Linked DNA regions of Homo sapiens: all the other regions are linked to region 1. The links come from fine-mapping of genetic effects on gene expression. A gene starts in region 1. Each other region holds a variant in brackets. All regions are shown on one strand. Distances are from middle to middle. Region 1 holds the start of DCAF4 (DDB1 and CUL4 associated factor 4). Region 2 overlaps DCAF4 (DDB1 and CUL4 associated factor 4). Region 3 overlaps PSEN1 (presenilin 1).

Region 1 (2,673 bases):
GGGATTCCACCTCTGTTGGTAGGACCCCCAGGCCTGGTTACCCACAGAACACCACCTCAGGCCGGGCGCGGTGGCTCACGCCTGTAATCCCAGCACTTTGGGAGGCCGAGGCGGGCGGATCACGAGGTCAGGAGATCGAGACCATCCTGGCTAACACGGTGAAACCCCGTCTCTACTAAAAATACAAAAAATTAGCCGGGCGAGGTGGTGGTCGCCTGTAGCCCCAGCTACGCGGGAAGCTGAGGCAGGAGAATGGCGTGAACCCCGGGGGCGGAGGCTGCAGTGAGTCGAGATCGTGCCACTGCACTCCAGCCTGGGCGACAGCGAGACTCCGCCTCAAAAAAAAAAAAAAAAAAAAAAAAAAAAGAACACCACCGCGACTCTAATTTCCATCGTTATTTAAAATCAGAGTTTGGGACTTTGGAATTGTTTCCTCTAGGAAGCCGTCCCCTCAGTTTTCTTTGCTTCTGGCTGCGCTGCTGGAGTCACAAGACAATGCCTGTAGAACACCATGGTGAAAGGCGTCATGGTTTCTGAAGCCCCCGGGGAGCCCACGAGGCGTGGCTTTCTCGCTAACTCACAACTCAGAGTGGAGGCGAGGGCCAAACCCAGGCCCCATCACTTGCTAGTTGTGCGCTACCCCGACGGACAACCAAACTGCACCCCTTTCTGCGTCTGACAAGGACATCATAGCGCTGGCAAATGTTAGCGCCTGTGAAGCCGGCAGCACAGAGCCGGCCACTTCGTAAGCTTCAACCACACCTAACCTGTTATGCTGACCTGAACATTCACAGGGGACACCGCCCCAAGGCCCGCAGCCCAGCCCCCGCCAGGTGTCGGGTGGGGCCTTCAGCAGCAGGTCTCAGAGAAGCGCTTAGAGAAACGCCCTCAGCGGCGACACTCGGGGTGCCCTCCCTGCGTGTTTACGGTTGCAGCACTGATCCGGCCGGAGGGCCCCACGCGCCCCAGAACGGGCGGAGCGCGCCGGCCCAGCTGCCACCTAGGCCCGGTGGCGCCGGCGTTCCACGTGCTCACTCCTCCCCGCCCCTCCCCGCCCCTTTCCCTGGCCTTCCTCGCCGCGCCTGTCTCCCACCCCGAGCTCTGCAGCGGGAGCGCGGCAGCCCTCGAATCGATGCCAGTAGGCACCCCAGGCAGCACAGTCTTACCTGTTCAGCGTGTCCCTTCCGGATTCCCCTCCGGCTCAGCTCTGCAGGAGTTGGAGCGAAGCGTGCAAGGACCCGGAAAGACCAAGGTGTAGCGTCAGCCAGTTAGGTGGATGCGTTTTGGTGTTGTAGCAGCCGATAGGGCTATAGCGGCCGTTCTTTCCTTCTCACTGGACGCGGCTTCTGTCTGTCGACGTCAATAGGGACGATCTCATGAAGAAGGCGGGGAGTGGGGCTTCGGCTCCTCCCAGGCCTGGCCTGTCTGGGGCGGATGCACGTGGAGGCTGGTCATGGAGCGCTTGGGGGTGGGGCCAGGCGCACGCGGGGGCGGGGCCGGGGGCTGCTCCCGGAGCAGCGGAACTGTCTGGAGACCCTTTCGTGAGAGACCGTGTCTTCCTCCCTCCGCAGGGTGATGCGGCCCTGGAGAAGTCCTCTCGCTGTAGTGGAAAGAGCGAAGGAGTCTGTGAGGCGAGGGACAGAAGTAACGTGATGTTACGACTGGCGGCGAAGTCTTCGGCAGTGGCCTCAGGCGGCCGAGGCCGCTGCCCTGGGTCTGCGTTCAGGGTGTAGCGTAGCGAGCCCTGACCGTGAAACCGGGGGGCCTCCGTGTTGGCTCCAGTACTGCTGCTTGCTGTGGGACCTAGGGCGAGTCTCTTCCCTTCTCTGTGCCTTGATTTCTTCTGTTGAGAGAAGGAATCGGATCTATCATTCTCATGTCCTCTCCAGCTTAGAGTTTGTTCAGACCACCAATATTTCTAGAATGACCTATGTGTGCTGTGCCTGTCCCAGGTATCAGCTGACGGTTATGAGATCTTATGAAAGGAAAACGGAAGCCTCTGATGGGCTTGTGTCCCGAAGAGACAGTTTGTGAGGACAGCTGGATTCACAGAGGCTAGGCTTGTTGGGGTCCAGCAGTAGGCCTGGTGTGTCATGCGGCTCCGTAACACAGGCCCCTGCCCGCGGCTTGGACCCGTTAGAAAGCAGGCGGTGGGGTTCACCCATTGCACGCCGTGCGAAGGCATTTCAGCTCTTAACCAGGAAGCTAGGATTTCAGGCTAAACTCCTGGCTCTCAGGAGTTTATAGATAAATGCAGTATGTGGAGCGGGGCCGGGTGATGAGGGAAATGAGAGAAGTGGGCATAGTCAGAATAAAGAACCGCTTCATGAAGCTTGAGCGGCCTTGAAGAGAAGGCAGAGAAAAATTCTAGCTGAACAAACAACGTGACTGGAGGCCGGTTCAAGCCGGCTGGATGGGAGGGGAGTCTTGGAAGGAAAACTCAGCAGGGTGGGTTGGGGCTTGGTGACGCAGCAATTGCCAGGGAAAGAGTAGTCAGGCCGGGTGCAGTGGCTCACGCCTGAAATCCCAGCACATTGGGAGGTTGAGGCGGGTGGATCACTTGAGGCTAGGAGTTCCAGACCAGCCTGGCCAACATGGCGAAACCCCCAACTCTACTAAAAATACAAAAAATTAGCCGGGCGTGGTGGCGGGCGCCTGTAATCCCAGCTACTC
Region 2 (2,848 bases), 30 kb before region 1:
CCTTGAACTCCTGGGCCCAAGCCATCCTTCTGCCTCAGCCTCCTGAGTTAACTGGGACTACAAGTGTGTGCCGCCATGCCTAATTTTTTTTTTTTTTGAGATAGGGTCTTGCTGTGTTGCCCCAGCTGGTCTTAAACTCCTGGCCTCAAGCTCCCTAAGTGCTGGAATTATAGCTACCACACCTGGCCTGATCTTTTCATGTTATAGTAAAAGATCTGTCAAAGTCATTACATCCTGGGGATGGGCTAGGTTGACAACTCTCCCCACAGCTCTTTCTGGTTTAATGCTTCAGTTCCTAGGACCGGTTTAAGTCTTCAGGGCTCCAGTTCTGAGGACTGTGACACACAACAGCATGGGTTACAGCAGCCCAGAAACATGATATACACTACTGGAGACCTTCAGCAGGAGAAGAGGACAGGCCTTGGGCAGTCATGGATTTCACATTTGTGATTCTGATCACTTGTGTGGCTCTAAGACCAGAAGTGCTATCTTGGCTGAAGCTGAATCCCGGCTGCAGTTTATTACTGCAGCTGGTAACTACCTGCATCTGCCTCTCAGCAAGGCTGAGCTCTCTCTATCATCCAGCTCACAAGAGCTCTTCTGTGATAAAAACAGGTGAAAAATCGACTTAAAAAGGAGGCGAAGTCCTGGTGTTGATGAGAATAGTAAATAAGTCTATGAATGTCCTAACAAAGTAATGCTTCCTAGCCACAAAAATGTTCCATGGGGTATAAGCCCTTTCTATAGGAATACCAGTAGAGGTGACAATTCTTGAAGACTGAGAACACATTCTGCAGTGTCAGCAGCTACTATTTCAGTGTGAAAGCATTGAGCCTGCACACTGTCTGATTACGCTATAGCCACCATCATCTGTAATCAACTGGTAACTCCCTTCCAGGGGGCTTAGTGGCCAGATAGCTGCTCCTAATCTGCAGATCATGGAGCCACAGGGATGGTAGTAAAGGGGCCACAAATCTTTTTTATTTATTTATTTATTTTGAGACGGAGTCTCGCTCTGTTGCCAGGCTGGAGTGCAGTGGCGTGATATCGGCTCACTGCAACCTCCGACTTCCTGGTCCAAGCAATTCTCCTGCTTCTGACTTCCGAGTAGCTGAGAGATTACAGGCAGGTGCCACCATGCCCAGTTAATTTTTGTATTTTAGTAGAGATGGGGTTTCACCATGTTGGCCAGGATGGTCTCAATCTCCTGACCTCGTGATCCACCCTCCTTGGCCTCCCAAAGTGTTGGGATTACGGGCGTGAGCCACCGCGCCGGGCCGGGGCCAAGAATCTTTACAATGACCATAACTTCTTTTCTCAGCAT[C/T]CTCTGGTGGAAATGTGAGTAGAGACAACAGGGAGCCCAAGTTTTTGGATAAGATAGTTGCGTGGTGGAATAATGCTGGCCTGATGAAATCCACTCAAACTCCAAACCCAGGCTCCCCAGGACCTCCCCACCTGCCTGTTTCTGAAGTGACGTTTGCCCACTGACATGGGATGAGGCTGTCCACCTGGTGGACATTTATTTACACTCCTGATTACTAATATAATCTAATTCTACTTCCCTCCTAGTCTCCCCACCCAGCTGTCCACACTCCCCTTGATTCAGTTCTGTTTTGGGGTAACTTTTCCCTCTGCTGCTGAAGTTGCTGGGATCGCCCCTGAGAGACAGTATTTGATGGGGTGGAACTTCCCCTTCCTTCCTCAAGTACCTGCCACCAGGATTCCTTCTTCCTCGTGCACATGCAGGGGCAGGTAGGCGTACTCATTCACGTGGCCTTCGTACTGCCTTACGCACTTCGTGGTCCTCAGGTCCCACAGCTTGATCTGTGGAAAAAGCACCAGGGGCCATCAGGGAGGGGCCAGGGGGTACCATGGTGGTCCCCAAGTGCAAAGCCAGGAAGGCAAGGTGGTCTCCAGTGGCCTGTGCAGGTCATGAAGATCTCCATCTCGAATTCTTGAGCCTTGTTGTTCATCAAAAGCATGTAACCAGGCCGGGCACGGTGGCTCATGCCTGTAATCCCAGCACTATGGGAGGCCAAGGTGGGCAGATCATGAGGTCAGGAGTTCGAGACCAGCCTGACCAACATGGTGAAACCCCATCTCTACTAAAAATACAAAAATTAGCCGGGCGCAGTGGCGGGTACCTGTAATCCCAGCTACTCAGGAGGCTGAGGCAGGAGAATCGCTTGAACCTGAGAGACAGAGGTTGCAGTAAGCCAAGATAGTACCACTGCACTCCAGCCCGGGCGACAGAGCAAGACTCCATCTCAAAAAAAAAAAAAAAAAAAAAAAAAAGGACATAACCAGAGAATCCTTTTCACTTTTGTTTACGTCAGATTAGGCTCATATGGTCAACGAAGCAGTCCCCATGCAGGGCCTACAAATCACTTGGTCTTCAGCGAAATTCCCCTGCCTGGGGTCTTGGTGTGAGGACCTCTTCAGCAGAACCCTTTCACCTGGCAGGGCACTGGGCCACGAGACCCTGTGGCCTGAGAAAGTCCATGATCCCCTACCTTTCCAGCCATGTCTGAAGCCATCAGGTATTGCTCATCTTGGAGGATCCGCACAGAGGTCACTGCTGAATCATGAAACAGGCGGGTGGCCTTCCATCCCTTGCCTTGATTTCCACAACGCAGATCAATGGCAAAGATTTCCCCAGAGCGGCAGCCATTAAACAGCAGAGGAGCCTGTGGAAAGAGGGACTGCTCAGTGCCTGGCTATCATGACATCCCTCTGAGGCTGGGCAGGGCAGGTCCTCCTGATACAACCCCTCTTCCAGCCTCTGGGTCAGACGGTGTGATTAGACACGTGCTGGTCAGGGTTTGGGTCTCAATGGAGTTGGAAGGGA
Region 3 (2,500 bases), 270 kb before region 1:
AGCCTGGTCAACATGGTGAAACCGTGTCTCCACTAAAAATACAAAAAATTAGCTGGGTGTGGTGGCACACGCCTGTAATCCCAGCCACTCCGGAGGCTGAGGCAGGAGAACTGCTTGAACCCAGGAGGCGGAGGTTGCAGTGAGCCGAGATCGCACCACTGCACTCCAGCCTGCATGACAGAGCGAGACTCAGTCTCCAAAACAAAACAAACCAAAACACCAAAGGGGTAAGGAAATTGATACTTTCATATTACTGAAGGGAATGTAAACAGGCACAGCTTTTTTAGGAGGCAATATGGCAAACTATCAAAATTTAAATACATCCTTTGACTTAGCAATTCTACTGTAAGAATACATTTTATAATAATATTCATAAGTTCATGGATGCACTCTGTAAGTGCTGTCTGTGATAGAAAATAAATGGAAATGATCTAAATGTCTATCAATGAGGATACCCACCACTGAATATCTACGTAAGAGAACACTATGCAGCCATTTCATGTGCTGACATCAAAAAACAGTAATGATATTCTTAAGTGAAAAATACTGGCTTGCCCAATTTTCCACTATTTTCCTCTACTTCCTGTAGTATCCTCTCTTGTCTCATTCTCTAAACACAGTAGTTGACAAAGTTTGACCCTTGTCTTCCTCTTCTCTTCTGCTTTTATTTGAATTGCTCACCAGCTCACAGACCTTAACTACCAACTCTCTGCTAATGTTCTTCAAGTCTCTATCTCAAATATCAACTTTTTCCCAAGCTCTAGTATTTCATTTCTAAACGTCTGCTAGCAATGTCTACCTAGTGACCCACAGGTACTGTCAACTAAATTAGATATGAGCCACAGAAAGATATAAAACTAAACAGATCCTTCACACAAGAAAACATGGCCAGGCGTGGTAGCTCACACCTGTAACTCAAGCACTTTGTGAAGTCAAGGCAGGAGGATCGCTTAAGCCGAGGAGTTCAAGACCAGCCTGGGCACATGGCAAAACCCAGTCTCTACACACAACACAAAAAAATTAGCCAGGCCTGGTAGTGCGTGCCTGTAGTCACAGCTACTCGGGAGGCTGAGGTGGGTGGATCACCTGAGCCTGGGAGGTCGAGGCTGCAGTGAGCCATGATCACACTACTGTACTCCATCCTGGATGGGAGTGAGACCCTATCTCAACAACAACAACAAGAAAACACAGGAAAGCATTTTTTCTTCATCA[C/A]CTTTCCTTCAAGCTTACAACTTCTCTCCTCAGTTGCTAGAACTATTGATTCTACCTCTGAATCCTCTGATCAACTCTTTCCCTTGATTGCTACTGCCACTACCATAATTCAAACCCCCATTACTTTCCACCTAGATCATGGCAATATCATCTTAATTATGCTTAGTATGCCTCTCATGATCTCAGTATCCAACCCACCAATTCATCTCACACAGTGCTGCCAGCTTACAAAGGCACGGCTCTGCTCACATTACCCTTCTGCTCAACAATCTCAGTTCCCCAGTGGTCACCGAATAGCAGAAAGACATCTAAACCAGTCACTCAAAGGAATCCTTGAGCTTGCCCTAATCAACAACTCCTAACAGGTTTTAAAATGGGAATGCTGGTTCCCCAATATCTAAACATTTTCTTTCTTTCTATTCATATTGAAAACTCTCTTGAATCAACATCAGGTAGAAGACAATTGCTTGCAAGGAAACAAAGAGATCTGCAGGAGTTCCAGGAATGCTGTGCATTTAAGATGAGAACAAGTACCATGAAAATGACCATAGTTACATGTGCTTCAGTTCCGATAAATTCTACACTGATTACTAATTCAATATCCTTCTCAAATACTTACAGGAGTAAATGAGAGCTGGAAAAAGCGTTTCATTTCTCTCCTGAGCTGTTTCAACCAGCATACGAAGTGGACCTTTCGGACACAAAACAGCCACTAAATCTAGAAAAAGAAAAACATAAAAGACATCTAATAAAATGTATGGGCTAAACTTGTAAATGGGTGGTAGGGAGGAATTAACGAAGGAAAAAAGTTTAATGTTTTTTGTCTCTTTTTACACAAAAAGACGTTGAATGAATATGAAATAAATGGCAGGTGAACTGGTGGGGGTGGGGGAGACAACATAAACAAAATAAAATGACACAGAACATCTGTAAAAATTTCATTTGGGTTTGACTGCTATTTGCTTAGTGTACAGTGTATCGTTACTGGGGTATAGGAACAAGTCTTCCTAGTTTAAAGGAAAGCTGCAGAGATAATGATGAGATAGACTATTTTAAGCAGTTGTCAACCTACAGTGAGCAGAAACAGGGAGAAGTCACTTCTAAACTAATCACGGATATGAACTACAAATTAAAAAGATTACTCTGAGATGAATTTAATAAAGGGGATTTGACTGAACTTTTCAAAATATGAAGAGCAGAGTAGAAGAAATTCATCCCTTCTCCTTTTTAAAAGCAGTATTACGTACTACTGAGAAGTACTTGAAGTAAGAGGGCAGTAAATTTAAAT

The links. PIP is the estimated chance that this variant, and not a neighbour inherited with it, causes the effect. A credible set is the group of variants that fine-mapping cannot tell apart.
Region 2: its variant is the best candidate, but not a certain one, in a credible set for the expression of DCAF4 in whole blood (INTERVAL, PIP 0.60).
Region 3: its variant is the best candidate, but not a certain one, in a credible set for the expression of DCAF4 in whole blood (TOPMed, PIP 0.52).

What each region holds. Positions count from the first base shown.
Region 1 is chr14:72,925,037-72,927,709 of GRCh38, reverse strand. DCAF4 (DDB1 and CUL4 associated factor 4) reads right to left here and starts at 1,246. Exons shown (of 14, transcript NM_015604.4): 1 at 1,167-1,246. RefSeq lists enhancers at 1-536, 1,208-1,477, 1,768-1,867, 2,268-2,673 and a silencer at 978-1,037.
Region 2 is chr14:72,955,362-72,958,209 of GRCh38, reverse strand. It overlaps DCAF4 (DDB1 and CUL4 associated factor 4), which reads right to left. Exons shown (of 14, transcript NM_015604.4): 12 at 2,514-2,687; 13 at 1,710-1,824. Among named protein-coding and RNA genes, the nearest start is that of TRC-GCA8-1, 6.2 kb to the left of the region's middle. The variant C/T (reference allele first, on the strand shown) is at 1,325.
Region 3 is chr14:73,197,461-73,199,960 of GRCh38, reverse strand. PSEN1 (presenilin 1) reads right to left here. Exons shown (of 12, transcript NM_000021.4): 8 at 1,832-1,930. Among named protein-coding and RNA genes, the nearest start is that of PAPLN, 39 kb to the left of the region's middle. The variant C/A (reference allele first, on the strand shown) is at 1,213.